6 linked regions of the Homo sapiens genome follow. The protein of the gene in region 6 purifies or fractionates together with the protein of the main gene of each other region. This does not show direct contact. Each region holds a gene or a part of one and is shown on either strand. Other genes may lie near its edges.

The links.
Region 1: the proteins of OR2M7 (region 6) and SQLE purify together in Homo sapiens (affinity purification with mass spectrometry; one large-scale study listed by BioGRID and IntAct). This does not show direct contact.
Region 2: the proteins of OR2M7 (region 6) and TMEM68 purify together in Homo sapiens (affinity purification with mass spectrometry; one large-scale study listed by BioGRID and IntAct). This does not show direct contact.
Region 3: the proteins of OR2M7 (region 6) and EIF2AK3 purify together in Homo sapiens (affinity purification with mass spectrometry; one large-scale study listed by BioGRID and IntAct). This does not show direct contact.
Region 4: the proteins of OR2M7 (region 6) and GUCY1B1 purify together in Homo sapiens (affinity purification with mass spectrometry; one large-scale study listed by BioGRID and IntAct). This does not show direct contact.
Region 5: the proteins of OR2M7 (region 6) and MARCHF6 purify together in Homo sapiens (affinity purification with mass spectrometry; one large-scale study listed by BioGRID and IntAct). This does not show direct contact.

The regions. Positions count from the first base shown.
Region 1 is NC_000008.11:125,015,505-125,019,004, reverse strand, and holds part of SQLE (squalene monooxygenase), read right to left. Parts: intron 947-3,500; coding exon 804-946; intron 375-803; coding exon 278-374; intron 1-277. UniProt on the Homo sapiens protein: Catalyzes the stereospecific oxidation of squalene to (S)-2,3-epoxysqualene, and is considered to be a rate-limiting enzyme in steroid biosynthesis.
Region 2 is NC_000008.11:55,756,379-55,759,878, forward strand, and holds part of TMEM68 (DGAT1/2-independent enzyme synthesizing storage lipids), read right to left. Parts: intron 34-3,500; coding exon 1-33. UniProt on the Homo sapiens protein: Catalytic subunit of the alternative triglyceride biosynthesis pathway, which mediates formation of triacylglycerol from diacylglycerol and membrane phospholipids.
Region 3 is NC_000002.12:88,624,665-88,628,600, forward strand, and holds the start of EIF2AK3 (eukaryotic translation initiation factor 2-alpha kinase 3 isoform 1 precursor), read right to left. Parts: upstream 2,801-3,936; 5' UTR 2,611-2,800; coding exon 2,303-2,610; intron 266-2,302; exon of another isoform or gene 82-265; intron 1-81. UniProt on the Homo sapiens protein: Metabolic-stress sensing protein kinase that phosphorylates the alpha subunit of eukaryotic translation initiation factor 2 (EIF2S1/eIF-2-alpha) in response to various stress, such as unfolded protein response (UPR).
Region 4 is NC_000004.12:155,793,521-155,797,020, reverse strand, and holds part of GUCY1B1 (guanylate cyclase soluble subunit beta-1), read right to left. Parts: intron 3,166-3,500; coding exon 2,935-3,165; intron 1,681-2,934; coding exon 1,564-1,680; intron 645-1,563; coding exon 511-644; intron 1-510. UniProt on the Homo sapiens protein: Mediates responses to nitric oxide (NO) by catalyzing the biosynthesis of the signaling molecule cGMP.
Region 5 is NC_000005.10:10,356,695-10,360,194, reverse strand, and holds part of MARCHF6 (E3 ubiquitin-protein ligase MARCHF6), read right to left. Parts: intron 1-3,500. UniProt on the Homo sapiens protein: Endoplasmic reticulum membrane-associated E3 ubiquitin ligase that plays a critical role in mitigating endoplasmic reticulum stress, the regulation of cholesterol and lipid homeostasis, and ferroptosis.
Region 6 is NC_000001.11:248,323,130-248,325,801, forward strand, and holds OR2M7 (olfactory receptor 2M7), read right to left. Parts: upstream 1,440-2,672; coding exon 501-1,439; downstream 1-500. UniProt on the Homo sapiens protein: Odorant receptor.

The sequences.
Region 1 (3,500 bases), on a different chromosome or scaffold from region 6:
GACAAGCATGATCTAGTCTGCACCAGAGGAATTCAAAATAATGAATATGTTACTGAGGCATTGCTATTAATGTTGTCTAAGGAAATTCCACTACCTTCCAAACTAAAACTAAAACTACAACTATTGCTCAAAATGGAATTTTAAAAAACTACCAACTTGGGAGTTAGCAAACTCAGGTAACATTTTTATTTCTGGACAAATCACTAACTTGTTTATTCCTTTCCTACGCTAAAAATCTGCAATTGAGTAATATTCACTAAAAAGTGTCTACACTTACCATCTGTGGCAGAAAATAATTCATAAAGAGCCTGAGCAAGGATATTCACGACAAAGGAATGAGATGTTTTTCTTGCCCAGTAAAATGATTTTTTGGCCTAAAAAAGAAATAGCTCATTTATTATATGGTAAGGATAAAAAAGCACAAACTGATGTTTATAATCCCCTCAAACTGATACTTATCCTTCTAAGGACTATCTGCAAGTAATATTGCCTTATGTTTATCATTTACAAAAAAAATAAAAAATCACCTTCAGAGCAATGGGTTATATGACACTGAAGCTAAATTTACAACCACTATGAGCTAAGTGGCCCATAGCAATCAAGTGTTACATAATATTCAAATTTAGAAATTCTCTAAGATTCACAGGTTGCAAGTCAGGTTCTTTAAGCCTAAGCAAGATGCCTAAGAGCTATTATAAAGCATCAGGTTCCTTAGTACAGATCTCCCCATCAGAGCCCCACTGCTCTTAACCCCCAGAAATAAATCCATTTTGAGACATTTTTGTCAAAATAATTGATCTTACCTCGAAAATAGCTGCATCATCATAAAGGTCAGGGATACCCTTTAGCAGTTTTCTCCATAGTTTTATATCTTTAAAAGCAACAGTCATTCCTCCACCAGTAAGTGGATGCCTCATATTATATGCGTCTCCCAAAAGAAGAACACCTATGAAGAGAGGTAATGAAGATTTTATTTTAGAGCATCCCTTGAGACAAAACAAAAAGGATAACTCAATGTATAAAGATTACTGATGTAAGCTAATAATAAGAAAAATGTGAAAATACATGAAAACAAATCATGATTAAAATTTGCTGAGGCAAAAATTCAAGAGTTGTTTGAATCAATGTTGGGTACCTAATAGGTGGCCAGGCACTGGGGATATGGTAATAACAAGAGTGTGGCCTCTGCCCTCATGAAGCTCATATACAAACCTAATGACAAGTCCAATAATGTCAATACATTTGTAAGGCCTCCTTAAAATATGAAGAAAATAAAAAGAATCTACAGGTATCCAGGTATACAAAGCAAGTCCTCTGGCGATCATCCCCCTCCCACACAGGAAAGCACCTTCATAAGAACCAAAAGTCAGCCTGGGTACCAGCTTGGCCAGTGAGACAGAGCACCAAGTGGGTTCCTGGGGTCCCTGATTCTAGGTCTTGGCACCTGGACAGCATTTTTGGATCCGTCCTGGGTGAGAGGGGAGCCCATTGTACTGAAGGGAGAGACCCAGGTCTGGCAGCATTCACCACCAGCTGACTGAAGAGCCCTGGAGCCTTGAGTGAACACCAGCAGCAGCCAGGCAGTACTCACTGCAGGCCTGGAGCACTGGTGGCCATGGGGAGAGGCTCCTTCTGCTTGAGGAAAGGAGAGGGAAGAGTGGGAAGGAATATGTCTTAAGGTTTGGGTGCCAGCTCAGCTGCAGTAGAATAGAGCACCAAGTAGATTCCTAAGTTTCCCAACTCCAGGCCCTGGCTCCCAGACAGCATTTCTGGACCAGTCCTGGGCCCCCAGGAGCTCACTGCCCTCAAGGGAAGGGCACAAGCCTGGCTGGATTTGTGCTGACTGTAGAGCTCTTGAGTCTTGAGGGAACATCAGCGGTGACCAGGCAGTCATCACCACAAGCCTTTCACCAATACCCAGTGCTGTACTGGCTTCAGGTCTGACTCAGCACACGCCAGTCATGGTGGCCACAGGCATACCTGTGTCACCCGTCCCCCACAGCTCCAGGCAGCTCAACAAAGAAGGACAGACTCTGTTTGGGGGAAAGTAAGGGAAGAGAACCAAGAGTTCTTTTCCTGATAATCCAGGGAATTCTCCCAGATATTACCCAAGACCACCAAGGCGGTACCTCTACAAGTCTGCAAGGGTCACAATGTTACTGGACTTGGGGTGCCCCTTAATACAGATACGGCTGCTATGACCAAAGACTTAGATCACAACACTCACTTCCCTTTGAATACTTCAAAAGCGTTCCCAAGAAAGATGGGTACAAACAAGCCCAGACTCCGAAGACCACAATAAATACCTAACTCATCAATGCCCAGACATTGGTGAACATCCACAGTCATCAAAACCATCCAGGAAAACATGAACTCACTAAATTAACAATAATAAATAAGGCACCAGTGACCAATCCCAGAGTAACAGAGATGTGAGCTTTCAGAGAATTCAAAATAGCTGTTTTGGAGAAGCTCAACAAAATTCAAGACAACACAGAGAAGGAACTCAGAATGCTATCAGGTAAGTTTAACAAAACAACTGAAATAATTTAAAAGAATCAAGCAGAAATTCTGGAGATAAAAAATTCAATTAACTTACTGAAGAACATGGCAGAATCTCAACAGTAGAACTGATCAAGCAGAAGAAAGAATTAGTAAGCTTGAAAACAGGCTATTTGAAAATACACAGAGGAGACAAAAGAAAAAAGAATAATCAAGAATGAGGCACACCTACAAGATCTAGAAAATAATTTCAAAAGAGCAAATCTAAGTTCTTGGCCTTTAAAAGGAGATAGAAAGATGAGGGTAGAAAGTTTATTTGAAGAAAAAATAACAGAGAACTTCCCAAATCTAGAGAAAGATATCAATATTCAAGCACAAGAAAGCTACAGAACACCAAGCAAGGATTGGTGATTGATTTAATCCAAACAAGACTAGTTCAAGCCATTTAATAATCAAACTCCCAAAGGTCAAGGATATAGAAAAGATCCTAAGAGCAACAAGAGAAAGGAAACAACAAACAATGGAGCTCTAGTATGTCTGGCAGTAGACTTAGTGGAAATCTTACAGGCCAGGAGAGAGGGGCAAGACACACTGAAAGTGCTGAAGGAAAAGAACTTTTATGCTACAATAGTATATCCAGTGAAAATATCCTTCAAACATGAAGGAGAAATAAAGACTTTCCCAGACAAACAAAAGCCGAGGGACTTCATCAACACCAAACTTTCCCACAAGAAATGCCGAAGTGAGTTCTTCAATCTAAAAGAAAAGGACCTTAACGAGCAGTAAGCAATTACATGAAGGTACAAAACTCACAAAAGTTAAAAAGCAAGGAGGATAAAGTGTAGAGTTTTTATTAGTTTTCTCTGCTCGTTTGTGGAATCAGTTGTCATCAGTTTAAAATAATCGGTTATAAGATATGACCTGCAAGCTTCCTGGTAATTTCAAATCAAAAGCCTACAAGAGGTAGGCAAAAAAATTAAAAGCAAGAAATTAAAACA
Region 2 (3,500 bases), on a different chromosome or scaffold from region 6:
CTGGTATTTTTTCCATTCCATGAACTTCATAACCTGTTTGAATGACAAAATGCAAATACTTAAAATATATTCATTAATTCGTTTACAGTAAAGGATGGTTGGTAGCTCAGTCTTTTCTCACAAAAGTACACTAGTCTTCCTGGTTCTCTTCCCCTTTCCCCCTTCTTCCCTCTCTTTCCTCTTCTCTTTCTTTCTTGAACAAATCAGTCCTACAGCCATTAGGTGGGCCACAGTGAAGCAGACAACCTGTGTGGAGAGGTAGCCTGGAGTGTTGGCGCCAGACACTAAGGAAGGCACTCACACAGGTGGTGCGGAGTGGGGAGTCAGAACCAGAGCAGAGTCACGAGGGCACTGCACAGAAGAGAGCCTATCACAGGTTGGGGGGCTGCTGAGGGGGAAGAGAGGAGGCAAGGGTCACGGAAGCTTGGGAGTCAGAGCCTGAGTGAAATGGGGGCATCCACAACCAGCAAGCAGCCTGGCAGGAGGGGCCAGAGCCCGAGACAGGTGGCCTGGTGTAGGGCATCACAGCCTGAGCAGCTGGACAGGGCACTGTACAGAGTGGTGGCCTGGCACAAGCAGGGACAGGGCATCCATGAGTTGTAGGGGAAGGCAGCAATGATGGGAGATGGGTTACACACAGGGGGACTGATCAAATGAGTCAACATAGTAAGAATAACGGGAGCCAGGTTTCACTGTTAGAGGAGGGGGTTGAAAACATTAAAAATACTGTACAGTATTACTAGTAAGAGAAACTCTGTAGCCACAAGGGAACATCACTCCCACCCTACTGATGAGAAAAAGCCTGAAGTACAAATCTTTTTTTCTTAAGCATGTCAGAGAACAGAGGTCACAAGGCAACCAGGCGAACTGAACTTCAAAGGGTGATAAACCCCTCTAAGGAAAGACAAAAACTGAGAATGGGAGGAAGAGGCAGATGCCATAAAAGAGGGTAAGAAGAAGTGACATATTACAAAATACTTAAAGTCCCACGGTAGGCTAGTATTGAATGTAGAATCTCTGGAAGCCCCAGATAGTCACTCTCTAACTCTTCTCCACAGACCTCAGTGTGTGCTCACAAGAAAGATTAGGGGTGAAGCTGGAGAGTAAAGAGAGCCCCTGCTAATGGTACAGGGAACAAAACCCCACTCACTTCCTGGAAGTTTATCTCATAGAAGAAAACCTGTCAGGCGCTGGGAAAGGGGCAGGAAACCCTTTCACTCCCTCTAAGAAAAGGGTATATGCAAAAGGCATGTAATGCTGGGAGGGGCAGAACTCCACTCCCCTGCCCCACACACTCCTCCACCCTCACCAGCCCAGTGTCAGGCAAAAGTCCACTATTCTAGAGAAGGGGAAGAAGCAAAATATCTACCACTGGGCAGCGGGGGTGGGTGGCAGGAAAGTCTAAGGGGCCCAGAGTCCTTAAGTGACATAAAGCAGATATCTACCACGGGGGCAGTGGCAGCAAATTTGCTTCCATCACAAAACCCCCAACACAGGGAAAAGGGAAAGGAACACAGAAAGCCTCACCCCTAAGCCCCAGGAATACAGAGCCCCATAAGATTTTAGCTAAACCTGAAAACTGAGGAGTGCTATACCCCAGCACCAGGGGGAATGAGGGCAGGGGCATGAACAAGGGGTGTGAGGAGTCCCCAAGTACCCCCATGTGGAGTTATAAGCAAAGGCGACCTTTTCCTGGGGTCGCAGGAGGGGCGTGAAGAGACTCTTCCTGTGGCAAAGGCATACAGGACTGAAGGTGGAGCAGAAACAACCAAAAAATCCCTCTACTTCAGGCCCTACACTATGCACAAGATAACAGTAGGAGTCTGAAGTCTGTGCTGAACTGAAGGTAGCTGTAGCGCAGCAATAAAAGCCAAATCCAGTTCACTCAGTAGATTGAATCCACCTCCAACCGACCACCAATGGCCTGACAGATTCTTAGTCATAAATCCTATTTATGAGCCCAATTCTCAGTCATAAATACTATTTACCTCAGTTGTCATTCTTTTACAAACAATGGCCAGAATTCAATAAAAAATATGACATAAAATAGCAAGAAAAAAACCCACTGTCAAGAGCTAAAACAATTAACACACCCAAATGTTGAAACTATCAGATGGAAACTATAAAATAACTATGATTAAGTTAAAGGGGAATGCAGTGGCTCACGCCTGTAATCCCAACACTTTGGGAGACTGAGATGGTAGGACTTTTGAGCCCAAGAGTTAGAGATCAGCCTGGGCAACATGGCAAGACCCACCTCTGCAAAAATGTAAAAAAATTAATTGGGCATGGTGGCATGTGCCTGTAGTCTCAGTTACTTGGGAGGCTGAGGTGGGATGATTGCTTGAGCCCAGAAGTTGAAAGCTGTAGTGAGCTATGATCGTGCCACTGCACTCCAGGCTGGGTGACAGTGCGAGACCCTGACTCTAAAAATAAAAATAAATAAATAAACGCAAAGGATCTAGTGGAAAAGGTGGATACATGCACAATCAGATTAGGAATTTCAGCAGAAAGATGGAAACTATAAAAAAATAGAGTCAAATAGAAAGGCTGTAAACTTAAATGAGCTCTAAAGATTTGATATTAGTAACATAACAATGTTAATTTTCCAATTTTAATGGGTTTACTGAGGTTAAGTATGAGAACATCCTTATTTGCAGAAGCCATCAAGTAAGTTACAACTTCCCTGAGATAACATGACCTACAGTAAATTTAAAAATGAGTCATAAAATAATTCATCAATAAAAGCAAAAAAAGTAGGCCAGGTGTGATGGCTCAAGCCTGTAATGCCAGTTCTTTGGGAGGCCAAGGCAGGAGGATTGCTTGAGGCTAGGAGTTTAAGATCAGCCTGGGCAAATCAGTGAAATCCCTGTCTCTACAAAAAAAAAAAAAAAAAATTAAGTAAATACAGTCCGGGCACAGTGGCTCGTGCCTATAATACCAGCACTTTGGGAGGGTGAGGCGGGAGGATCACCTGAGGTCAGGAGTTCAAGACCAGCCTGGCCAACATGGTGAAACCCCATCTCTACTAAAAATACAAAAATTAGCCAGGTGTGGTGGCATGTGCCTATAGTCCCAGCTACTCGGGCGGCTCAGGCAGGAGAATCGCTCGAACTTGGGAGGCGGAGGTTGCAGTGAACTGAGCTCACACCACTGCACTCCAGCCTGGGACACAAGAGTGAGACTCTGTCTCAAAAATAAATAAATAAATATAAATAAAACTAAAAAATACATATTTTTAAAACAGGAAAAATTATTAGTGACTGAATGTAAAATAAAATACCATTTACACTGTTATATATACACAGATATCATAATGCTGTAAACTTTAAGTTCATTCACAAACATAAGACTTCATTTTTATGTATTTAAACAATTCTTTAGAAATTTCCTCATTCTATTCATGAAAAAAACAAACATGATTTTGTACAATCTTATTACATGTGGGGGAAAAACTTTAATCACAGATTTGAACTAGACTACAAGAAAATCTCTGTCCT
Region 3 (3,936 bases), on a different chromosome or scaffold from region 6:
TCACTCATTTCCACCCGCCTACCTCCCTCTGGATGTCCTGCCTGCACCTCCGAGTCACATGTCCAACACCAAACCCCTTACCTTTTCTTCCCTGCTCCCTTAAACCTCTTTTGTCAACTTCTGGCCACGCAGTCTCAATCTCTGGACAAGGGTACCAAGAAAGGAAGAATGCATTCACTTGCCAGGAACCTAGATTTTGCATCAAATATCTCAACTCTGTCCCCTCTGTCCTATACCACTTTACACTAAACCTCTCATCTGAACTGCTATAACACTCTCCTTTTGGTATTCTTAACTCAAGTTTTCAGTACACACTATTGCTAGAGAAACATTCCTTAGGTGTAATTTTGATCAAGCCTGGCACTCAGGATACTCTACCCAACATTTCTCAAACTTTAACGTGCATGTGAATCACACGGTGATCTTGTTAAAATGCAGATACTCTCATTCAGGGAGTGTGGGGTGGTGCCCCACTCCGGAGTTTTAACATACTCCCAAGTGACAATGATGCTATTAGCATCAGACTATATGCATATACAGTCGGCTCTAACCTATTTTTTCTATCCTCATCTACTTCTCCCTGCCTAGCATACATATGTGCATGTCTATATCGCTTACGTACACACACACACACACACACACACACACACACACACACACACAGACATACACAGAGACAAAATGTTTTCCAAACATAATCTCCGGCCTCTGTGCCTCTTGCTGTTTCCTCAAGTCCAGTGACTTTCCATTACAATTTTACCCATTTTTCAGGAACCAACTCATTCTGCCACAACCTTCTCTTATCTTCTTACCTACCCTCACTCCCATACCTCACCTAGTAGAACACCACAAAAACCTTGGGACATCCCTGACACTGGCACTGTTTCTAGTCTGTAATGTTGTTATAGGTCTTCTCGTTTCATCCGTACTGTTAGACTGCACACTCTCCTGGAAGGCAGGAACTACCTGCCTAACCTCTGCCACCCAGGGCATCCTTGGGCTCTTGTTAACCAGTAAGTACCTGTTGAAGTGGATTTGAATTCTAAGAAAAAGAAAACGTCTCAACTCTACTTCATGTAATTCATTTTGAGCAGGAGCTTCAGAAATTTATGATAAACAAAAACACTCTTCCAGGAAAACTGACTCATTAGCAAACCTAAGAAAACTTTGTTTTATATATATATATTTACAAATGTTTATATATTCAAATGGTGCCTAGAGAATTTTAGTACTTATCCTATTTATAGTAGTCTCCAGATATATAGATCAAAGTTCTAATATTAATTTAAAATTAAATCTAACTTGTTACGATCTAGTAATGACTATAAGTCTAAAATATGTTCCAATCCAGAGCCCAGCCTTCCCTAGTTTAATTTACTTAATGCTCCCTTTAGCACTCCATTTATAAAATGGGACATCACTTTCTCCACGGGTGTGATAAGATTGGCTGTCCCCCAAATTTACTGTTAACATGCCTTACATTGTGTCTAGACTTTGAAAAGTGCTTTAAAACAATCACCTTGAAGTAACATTTTTTGAATGCTGAGAAACTCAAAGAAAACCCTATATTAAATGTTTATACAGTAAACCCCTTATTCAAGAACCTAACCATGGCTCTTAGGTTCAAGAACCAATATTCAAGAATCTGACTATAGCTCTTAAACTTTAGCGTGCAAGAATTATCCGGCGTGCTTGTTAAACACGCAGATGCCAGGCTCTTACCCAGGGAATGTCTCATTCAGTAAAACTGGGGTAGGGCCTAGAAAACTGTAGATTTCACCAGCAACCCCAGGTGATTCGGATGCAGGTGTTCCGCAGATCTCAATTAGACACTGATCTCAATCCTTGTCCGGGGGCACTACAGAGTTGTGTTTGAAAGAAAATGCAGACGTCTTTTGCTAAAGTCCTTTCTCAAAACAGCTGTCACGCCAGCACAGACAGGAGGTGATGTGCGTAAGGAAAAAGAGGGAAAGGTTCCTTGGAAGAGAATCAATGCCCGAAAACAATGAAAGAGGGGAAGTGGCGTTTCTTTGCAACCCTGGAATTCCATTCTCCCGCACCTGCGAGGATGCTGCTCTGACCCGTCGGCCAGCACCAGGCCCTCGGGAGCCGAGCCCAGGCAGGTCGCTGGCCGGGGGATGGGAGGGCGTCGTGGCCCCGCGCTCGTCCCCAGGTCGCCAGCTGCCCTCCGCAGCCGAGGGAAGACGCCCGCCCGGGTCCCGGATCTCCGCCCCCCTACACCGCATCCTCCGCGGCTCGCGCGCGTAAACAAGTTGCCTCCCCCGGGTCGGCAGCCCCTCACCTGCCGCGCGGTCGCAACTCTGTCTCATCGTCTGGTTCCGGACCCCGAGGCTCCTGCTCTCCCGCGGCTGCCGGCAGCGCCTCAGCGTCCTCCACAGTCACCTCGGCCGCAGCCACGGCGCCCGCCGCCGGTACTCGCGTCGCTGAGGTGGGAGCAGCGGCCGCCCCGAGGCCGAACGCCGCCTCCGCCGTCGGCGCTGGGAGGCCACGGGCGCGCCCCGCGGCCACCGTCCTTGCCGCGAGCCCCAGCAGCAGCAGCAGCAGCAGCAGCGCCCGTACCAGCAGCCCCGGGCTGATGGCGCGCTCCATCAGCGTCCCGCCCCGCGCGCAGGCATGGAGGCGCAGCCACTGACGCCTGCCTCTCCCGCCGCTTGGAGCTCCCAAGAAGGCAAGGACGTGCTAGGGACCCTACTGCCGCCCCGACGGCCTGGACAGCCAGCCGTGTTCCCCTGGCCACGTCTCAGCCCGGCCTCTGCCGCTGCCACCTGAGTGACAGCCTATCTCGGACATCGCCCATTGAGCAAACTTTCCGCGCGTTTGCTCTCTCATTGGCTGCGGCCGCTGCCACTCCATGTTCCCAGGCTGGCCTTGTTGGGGAAGGTGGACTTTCCCTGGTGGTCAACATCGCACCTACCAATCAAATCGTAATTTCGTCGTTCGAGGCCCGTCCCTCTTCCGGACGCAATTACCAATGAGAAATGCCCTTCCCCGACGTCTTTTTACCTGATTGGTGCGCTCATCAGTTCCCGGAATACCTTTCCTACAACAGATTGGCCATCGCGGTGGTTGGCCTCGCCCCACAAAGCGAGGCGCTGGAGAAGACTTGAAGATCATTGGTGGAAGTGGATGTCCCTCAAAGGTCTGCGCTAACTGCCTCTTGATTGGTTGGAAGCGGCACTTACTACGTGGCGGATTCTGACTGTGAAGAGGACTGTCCCAAGTGAAGAGTGGGAGGCAAGTGCCTTGTGACCGGGAGGAGGTCGACCTTAAAGGAGCTGGTATTGTAGCTCTTCTAAAGCCTAGTCTACTTAGGAAGGCAAAAGCGAAGCAGCAAGAAGTGGCCACAGAAGCCGTGTGGTCCCTAGAAGTAGAAGGGTAAGGAGGATGCAGGAGATGGTCCTACTTGTGGCCGCAACGGGGCTCAGAAGTCCGCTTGTTAGAGATGGCAGTGACCTGTGACAATCCAGTCTGCCCGACACGCCTCCCGCCTCCTTAGGAACGGGAAGGAGCCCCGGCCCAGTGCACTGACGTAGTTAGCCTAAGATCACGTAGCTGGTTGGTCACAGAATCATGACTTTAATTCATGTCTTCTGACTCTGACCTGGCACGCTTTGTACCTCACCAAAGACAGTGATGAAATTGCAAAAGGGCAGAGTGGAGAAGACTGGAATGTTCAGCCAAGGCATTTGAACTTTTAATGCTGCAAGTCAAGACTTCCTGAAGATTTTTGAGCAGATGAGTGAAGTGATAAGAAAATGCATCTTCAGCAGTGACAGCATCAACGAGGAGGAGACTGGCCGGGAGGCTATTACCCGCATCAAAACCAGTGAACATTAAAAAAAATTTTTTTTTTAGAGAGAGGGTCTTGCTCTTTTGCCCAGGCTGGAGTGCAGTGGCTTGACCATAGTTCTCTAT
Region 4 (3,500 bases), on a different chromosome or scaffold from region 6:
AATTGAATAATATATTTGGAACAGTGTATTTGGATTAGAGTAGGTAAATATTTTTAATTTAAAATAGTTCAAACCCAGAAAGAGACCTTTTAGATTTTTTGCTAACATACTATAGAAAAGATAATTTTTGATGTCAAATATACCAATGTATTTATTATGCCATCCTATTAGCTGCTTTAAAAAATCACTTTTCTACATAATGCCTATTTTGAAGGTCCAAAACTATAGAATTAGCTTAATGCAGATTATTTGTCCCATGGCGTAATGGCATAAACACTCCACAAATGTATTAAGACATGGCAAATAACATAGAGTATGTGATTTCTTCTGAGTTTATTAGCAAATATTAAATAAGATTATCCTTGTTATAAAGTAATACACAACAAGGGCTGTAAAATCTAATTACACCTCAGAGAATATGTAAATTTAATGGAATAAAATATTGTGGCATTCCTTTGTTAGCTAAAGATAGGTACTGATAGCCACTATAATTAATCTAAAAATGATTACCTTGGTGAACATAGAAAAAGTATGCTATCTGCTTCAGGTAAGTAGATCATTTGACCCTTGAGACGTAAGCAGCTGATCTCAGTCCCAGTCAGTTCATCCTCACATTCTAATTTCTCCACATCCAACAATCCTTCCTTGAAAAGGCAAGATACAACCATTAATGAATGCCTTTCTCCCTACCTAAGAATTCAGCAACAAGGACACGCATATCTCATTTCCCACCAAACCACAAAGCAGAATAAGTGCATCATTAGAACAGGAGAGGGCCTTCTGTCAGAGTTCTGCCTGTAATAAGCCTAGTGGCTGCCTTGCAACACTGCAGAAAAGTGACTGTCCCGTCTGAATTCAGGACAGTAACTGTGCTACTCTTCACATAATTATTTCAAGCTTTTGTGAATCTTTTTTATCCCCCTGATTTTCCGGTATGGTTCCAACATACATTACCAGACTCTCAAAGAATAAGCCAAGCCTCCCCATTCTCCCACCCTGTATTCATAGAGCAGCTGCAAACAGTCAGTTCCAAATACAGAAAGGATTCAATGGGTACTCTAGGAAAATGACTTTTGCTGTATCTATCCCAAGAACAGAAACCGTGAGATCCCAGCACTATCTAAATTATCAACTGTGTGAATATTTCATCACTTTTATTCACCCACAAAAACGCTACTAAGAACAATAGACAATTTAAGAAAGAATAAATAAGTGGTTTTGAGTGAAGTTCCAAAAAAAAAAATCCTTTTTAGTTCTGATTTCTAAAATAAGGCACTGTAGCTGTACAGGGAGTAAAAGATGTTGGTTTTTTGATGTGAAACAAGGCCGTCTCAGAAAGACAGTCTCTAAAATTTACCTCTGTTAATTTTAATCAGTTGATAGAGTTCCACTGCTCCTCAGGCAAACCAAAAATCAATGTTATTGCCTTTTAAATAGATCTTCCTTTGAGGTCTGGGTTTTATCTCTCTATACTTTCTCAGAGAATGTGATAATTTTCCCCCCTGAATACTTCTAATTTGTGACATACCTTTCTCACATTTAATGAAATAATATCTTGATTACCTTGCTTCTCAATACAAAAACAGTATTGATGTGAGAAAGGATCCCATGGAAACTAATATCAATATGAGGACGAACCAGCGAGAAGACAGACAGAAGGCTGCAATTCCCAGGCTGGAGCTAAAATATAGATAGAGAGCAAAGAGTATCACATCAGTTAAAATAGTTTTTATACTTTGATATTAATCGCTTGATTAAATCAGCTCAGTTATATTTAAAACTAGAAAATTATAATTATTATAATTCAAGGGAAACTTAGCTGAACTATCAACTCAAATCTCAATCTATACAACTCAGTGATTAAATGGACATTAAATAGTTACAAGAACATGAAATCTGATATGGATTCAGATGACTAATATTCAAATGTAAGCTAGCATAAATTTACAATGCATTTTCAGAAGGAGAAAAAATGAAAATTTATCTTTTAAAATGTACAGTGTTATGTTAAATGTGTATGGCTTGAAATGAAATTAAAATACCAAAAACATGAGCAAACCCTCTCTTAATATTTATCTAGAGGGCTAAAAGTGAAAACAATAGGTAACACTGATTGATTGCTTACAATGAACTAAGTATTTTTCATATGCTTTCTATTCTCATGCCAGAACAAAGAGAAACAGGCTGAGAGAAGTGAAGTAATAAGTTCAAGGTCATACAGTAAGGGACAGGTAGAGTCAATACCAGAGCCAGGACAGCACACTACTCTGCTTCCATTTCACCTGATCCAACTGGGCTAATCCTGAATTTTCAAGTCTCTTTAATTACAAGCAAAAAGTATCTCTAAACGTATGCCATATACAACTCCAAAAGTTAGTATTTAAGAAAAAAAGAGTAAGCATAAAGGATTTTACCAATGGATCTGTCATAGAAGTCAACAGCAGTTTCTCATCATCATCCCAACTGCTTCCTTTGATGCTTTTTCTACTGAATCCATCATCATCTCTATCATTTTGTGTTTTAGTTCTTTTTAAAATCCCCCCTTTTCCCTTAACACCATCAATAGTTGATTTTTAAAGCTATTTACAGATGGTAGATATCCAATGAATATTTATTCAGTGAATAAATAAACATGTGAAAGGTGACTGTTACTAAAAAGTTACCCATTTTTTTTCACTGTAACAAGTATACTATTCTTACATAACATTCCTACTGTTTCTGTATGTGATTATTATAAAAAAATAGTTGTCCTAGGGAAAGTTGTGGTATGCTCAAATACACTTAGTTCACAATTAAACAATTTGTGTAACTTACAATAAACTGCATATTACCTAATACATAGTCAGAGGGTTAAATGAATGGATGGCTGCCTGTAACAATAGTATTTCTATGGGCTTTTGTCTCAGGCCCCAAGGAAGTATGCTGTCATTTTACCTGGGGGAGAACTCTGTATATAGCATTGCCACACTGAGTGACCACTAGGTCCCGGTCAAATATTATATGAAAAGGAAAAGCTTTGCAGAATGTATATGGGCTGATGCGTGATTCCTGGGTACCATTTTCTTCAAATCTGTCAAGATCTTCATAAAAATCCTCTTCTTTTGACTCTTTTTCTTCAATTAAAAATTGAGTATGATCACATTCTTCATTTCTTTGCTGAATAACCTGGATATCAAAGGGGGAAATGGCATGAATTGTCTTCATTTCAGTTTAATAAAAATACCTAAATATAAAAAATGAGTTATGAATACTGCATTTAGAAGATTAATTACAAAAATTCAAAACATATATGCAAATACTCCATATGTCTAAAATAGGAAAATATTTCTGGACTTTGATCTATAAAATTTGAAGATTGAATAATCATTGTAAAATTACAAATCTGGTATCAGTTCCCCAGTATCCTATATGGTCTCTTTGGTAGAATTAGAAAAAAAAAGCACTTGTGGGCTCTGCCTTCTTAGCCAAGCACACTTGTATAGTGAACAACCTGAAAGCCA
Region 5 (3,500 bases), on a different chromosome or scaffold from region 6:
CTGGGCAAAAAGAGCAAAACTCTGTCTCAAAAAAAAAAAAAAAAAAAAAACACACACACATACAACTTTTGACTCCCGAAAAACTACTAATGGAAAACTACTAACAGCCTACTGGTGACCAGAAGCCTTCCCATAACATAATACAACATAAACAGTAGATTAATACACATATTGTACTACTTTTTTTTTGAGACGGAGTCTTGCTCTGTTGCCCAGGCTGGAGTGCAGTGGCGCGATCTCGGCTGACTGCAAGCTCCGCCTCCCACGTTCACGCCATTCTCCTGTCTCAGCCTCCCAAGGAGCTGGGATTACAGGCACCCGCCACCACATCCAGCTAATTTTTTCTATTTTTAGTAGAGACAGGGTTTCGCCATGTTGTCCAGGCTGGTCTCGAACTCCTGACCTCAGGTGATCTGCCTGCCACCGCCTCCGAAAGTGCTGGGATTACAGGCGTGAGCCACCGCACCCAGCCTTTGTATTACATTATACTAGGTATTATGAGTACTCAGGAGATTATTTAAAGTACAGATCTGTGAACATCACAGTTTGAACTACATGGGTCCACTTATACGCGGATTTCTTTCTTCAATAAATATATTGGAGAATTTTTTGGAAATTCACAACAATTTAAAAAAAGATGAACTGTGTAGCTTAGAAGGAGCAAAAAAAATAAAATTATGCCATGAATGCATAAACTGTATTATATGTATTGCGTACTGTATTATATGCTGCATTCTTACAATATGTATTGTAATATTATATACTGTATTCTATATTATATACTTTATTTTTACAATAAAGCTAGAGAAAAAAATTAAGAAAATCAGAAGGAAATTACATTTACAGCACTGTACCATATTTATTGATACCTGTCTGTTTACAAGATAAATCATTCTGAAATGGCCAGCAACCACAGCTACAAACCTCAATCTATGGCACATATGAAGCAATTCGACTTTTTCTTCATAATGTCATGCCTTTTTTCAGCTTCCTGGAGCACTTCCAGCATCACTTAGTGGCACCTCATATGGATCCCATCATGTTATTCAAAGTTTAGGGTACTGCACTAAATGCAATGAAAAATACAAGAGAATCCAGAGAGATACTTTTTACCATATACAATTTACTGGAGAGATGAGCTCCAACAACAGCAACACTTGAGCTCACAACAACAGCAACGGAAGGTGGCCACAAAATTATTACAGTAGCACAGTATGCACTACGGTTAATTTCATGCAGTTATGATTTAATACTGTATCTTTAAGTTTCTTTACATCTCTCAACTGTGAATGGTGCCATGTACAGTCTCCATTACATGTTTGTGTGTGTAAGTTTTGATAAATTTTAACATTTCATGACAGATTTGTATATATTTTATGATAGTGAGTAAAAGACTAGTATCTACATATATTTTATGCATTAATGACATAACTTTTTAACTTTCTCACTATTTCTAGACTACACAGTTCATCTGCAAGTTTTTTCAAATTGCTGCAAATCTCCAAAATTTTTTTCAATATATTTATTGAAGAAAAAAATCCATGTGTAAGTGGACCCATGTAGTTCAAAAACCCATGTTGTTCAAGAGTCAACTGTACTTTAAATTATCTCTAGATTACTTAGAATAATTATAACATAAATGTTATGTAGTCATCATACTGTATTGTTTGAGGAATAATGACAAGAAAAAAAGGCTGTACATGTTCAGTACAGAGGTAATCATCTATTTTTTTCCAAGTATTTTCCATCTGACATTGGATGAATCCACAGATGCGAAACCCACAAATACAGAAAGCTGGCTGCATATCAAGACAATTTATGTCTCACGTCAGCTCAAAACCCTCCCATAGCTCCCTATCTCACTATAAAAGTCAATGAAGTCCTACATGCTCTCTCCCCATTGGCTCCATATCTTTCTGACCTCATATTATACTTACTCTTCTCCAACTCTTTTACTCCGTTACAGCTACACTGCTCTCCTGGTGATTTATTGAACACTCTAGGCATGCTCCCATCTTAGACACTTCACATAGGCTATGTTCCCTCTGCCTGGAATGCTCTGCCCAGAGTATCTGCATGGCTAACTCCTTCTCCTTTGCTCCTTCTCAGTGAGGCCTTCCTTTACTGCTATATTTAAAACTGCGACCCCTAGTGAGCCAAGATCGCGCCACTGCACTCCAGCCTGGGTGACAGAGCAAGACTCCGTCTCAAAAAAAAAAAAAAAAAAAGCAACCCATGCCCTCATATCCTGGCACTTCTTATTCCCTCCCAATTCACTGTTCTCCACAGCGTTTATAACCTTCTAGTTATGCCATATAATTTACATGTTTATTTTGTCTTAAGCTAATAACTATAATGTAAGCTCTATGAAAGAAAGGATTTTCTCTATATTGTTCCTTGCCTAGCCCAAATGCATAGAATAGTGCCTGGCTCATAACAGGTCCTCAGTAAACATTTAACGAATAAATGCATGTACACTTGGTCACAAGCATGCCAAAACAGTGAAAGGTAATGCGTGGTAAGAAACATGCAGCAGACATCTCTGGAAACAAAGAAGACTGTGTGGGTCTAGAAAGAGAGGAACTAGCTGTCTGATTCTGACAACTTTCTATCCTTTTAACTCATTTCTTCCAAATTTAAGTTACCTCAAATTTTTGCCATAGTGATATAGAACATGATCAACCATAATACTCTTTAGCTTCACACTTTTCGAATGAATATGTTCCGTAAAGCATAAAGAACAGCTGCTTTGGTATTCTGTAATAAAATTACTAAGACTTTGTATTATGTTGTGCTAATACAAGCAGTAATTTAGCAAAATGGAAAAGAAAAAAAAAAAAACCTCAGCTTTATATCACTGAGCCGAAATGTGGGCATTCTATGACAAAATGTTTAATATTATCTTTGAGAACTGCACATCAACACTTGCAACATCTATTCCAATATTGTACTGCTTTTCCTTTAAAAAAAAAAAAAAAAAAGTATATCCTTGACCAAAGGATAGACTTTTCTCTGAAACTGAGAAATCTCAGTGCATTACAGGATCGGACTCCTAACCCATAAAATGAGGAGGGCAAATGTCTAAGGTCTCCTATAGCTCTGAAGTTTAAAAATGTCAGGATGGATAGCAGTTGACATAACACATCTGCACTCATACAAATAACATATACACAGTAAGAATGATTTATCCATCCCTGTATTATGAGAATGGATTATAAACCTGTTGATTTTACAAAAATTAATTTAATACTGAAGAAACTTTAGAGATCTTTAAAATCTAGCAAACAATTAGTATGAAACAGCCATGTCGGAACTAAGTATTACTACAAATGCATAACATTCTGAGCATCAGACTATCATATATGGTACCATCAGAGGCAAGCAATGTGCTATTTTTAAAAGGAAGGGAAGACTTACTATACGCACGGTTGATGTGTTTGTAACATTCTTAATCTCTTTGCTCAGAATATTAAAATATATTTTTAAAGGACAGAGAACCG
Region 6 (2,672 bases):
TACAAAGTGAAGTCACACAGGCATGGAAATCCAAACATCGTATATTCTCACTCATATGTGCCAGCTAAGCTATGAAACACCAAGGCATAAAAATGATACACTGGACTTGGGGACTTGGAAGAAATGTTGGGGACTGGAGAGGGCTAAAAGACTACACATTAGGTACAGCGAACACTGCTTGGTTGATCGCTGCACTAAAATCTCAGAAATCACCATTAAAGAACTTATTAATGTAACCAAACACTATGTGTTTCCCAAAATGATAATGAAATTTAAAAATAAAAATGGAATGTCTTTATTGAAAATGCCTTATATTGTAGTCATAACTGAATTGAATATTAAAAAATCTAAAATAGTTTATCTGAAATAAATTATACTGGTACCCATCAATATGTTGAGCAATGCACACAATTAGTGATATTTTTAGGACTTAATAGAAAAAGAGAGACAATAAAAAGAAGACGTTAGCAGACAGCAAAACATGAAATTTATGAGGTAACTCAATCTCCAGACTTGCCCTTTCCTAAGATTTTCATTAATGCTCTGGTCACTTCCTTGTTGCGGAGGCTATAAATGAGAGGATTCAGCATGGGAGTGACGATGGTGTAGAATACAGACACCATCTTGTCCTGCATAGGAGAATGATGAGATGTGGGCTGAATGCACATGAACAAACCTGCTCCATAGTACATTCCCACCACCATGAGGTGAGAGGAACAAGTAGTAAAAGCTTTGCGACGTCCCTCTCCAGATCCCATGTGAATGACAGCCAGAATAACTCGAGCATAGGAAGTGATGATGATTGCAACAGGGAAAACAAGCATTACTATACAGCAGATGAAAATAACCTCTTCAAATATTGATGTGTCATTGCATGAGAGGATTAGTAGGGAAGGGAAGTCACAGCAGAAGTGGGCTATTTCCCGAGACCCACAGTAGGAGAAGGAAAATGTCGCTACAGCATCAATGATTCCATCTGTAGAGCCCAGGATCCAGGAGAAGGCAGTCATAAGTCCACAAATTTTGGGTCTCATGAGATTGGTGTATCTTAGAGGGTGGCAAATGGCAGTGTAGCGGTCATAAGACATAACAGCCAACAGAAAGCATTCGGAGCCAAGCAATGATATATAGAAGAAAATTTGTGTGGCACAGCCAGCCATAGAAATGGACTTGCTGCCAGACAAGTAGTTGAAGGCCATCTTGGGTACAGTGGTGCAGATGAGCATGAGGTCCATGAGGGACAGTTGGCTGAGGAGGAAGTACATGGGGGTGTGGAGCTGGGTATCCAGGTAGATGAGGAGAACCATGATGGAGTTTCCCATGAAGGCCACTGAAAAGATGGCCAGGACCAGAAAGAAGAGGAAGGTGTGGGTGGGGCTATGATTGAAGATTCCCAGGAGGAGGAAGTCAGAGTTGAAGGTCTGATTCTCCCATGCCATGATGAATATGCCTGTTACCTAGCACCGCAAAAACAGTTCATTAATTTGATAAACATTTACCCAGTGCCTTATAAAGCATGTGATTATGGTAAATTCTGTAGTTTGGTGATCAATACAGGATGGCCAGAATTATAAAACTCAAAGTTTAAGAATTATGGAATCATAAAGAAATATGTTCTCTCAGCAGTGTCTCACTTATAAAATTATGGAGCTTGTCCTAACTTTTCTTCTAAGCATTCTTTTTCTCCATTGAAAAATTACAATAACAATATCTACTACATGATCAATGGAGTTTTTCCAAAAAGAATATGTCTCCAAAGCAAACAGTTCCTAAAACATCAGAAGCCTGTTACAGGTAAATTGATAGAGAAATTCAGGTTCAGTCACCATGTGACCAACACAATACTAGAAATGGACAATAAATTTGTGCCTTTATTCACATGATAGTAGGCATTTTTCCTACCAGAGTTAAGAAAATGTGTATGTTTACCTATTACTTTACAGTTTAAAGTATTTTATCTATACTTTATAGTAAGTTTTCTATACAGTAAGTGGATTCACTGAAAAGATTTTCAATTATACAAATCTAAGACATATGCTCTTTTTTCTATAGCCCAGTGTGATGCATTGAATTATGTTTCTTCCCCAAAAGATAGCAAGTGAGCTTGTTTAGAAATACATAAAGGGTATAATTAGTTAAGGTGAGGTCAAGTTGGAGCAGAGTGGGTCTCTCTAATTCAATATGACTCATGTTCTGATAAGTGGGTGGCCATGTGAAGACTGAGACACTGAGGATACCATGTGATAGGGGAGGCAGGGATTGGAGTGGTGCATCTACAAATCAAGAAATGCCAAAAACTGTTAGTTATAACAGGAACCTGGGAGAGAGGAATGGGACAGATTCATCCTCTTAGAGCCCTCAGAAGTGTCCAACCCTGCTGACAACTTGATTTCAGATTTCTAGACTCCAAAACTATGAGAGAATAAATTTCTATTGTTTTAGGTAACCTGTTTGTGATTTCTCTGTACTGGCATTCGTAGGAAATTAATACATCCAATATATCCTATAGAAAATAAGTAGATATAAAAACAGAAATTAAGAAAAGCATGAGATTCATCCTTTCAACAACATTTATGAAGCCTGGCTATGTGTTGATCACTGGGGCTACCACAGTGACCAGAATAAAGAAAGCCCGTGTCCATACAGGTCATAGTGAGTGTGATCAGATGATG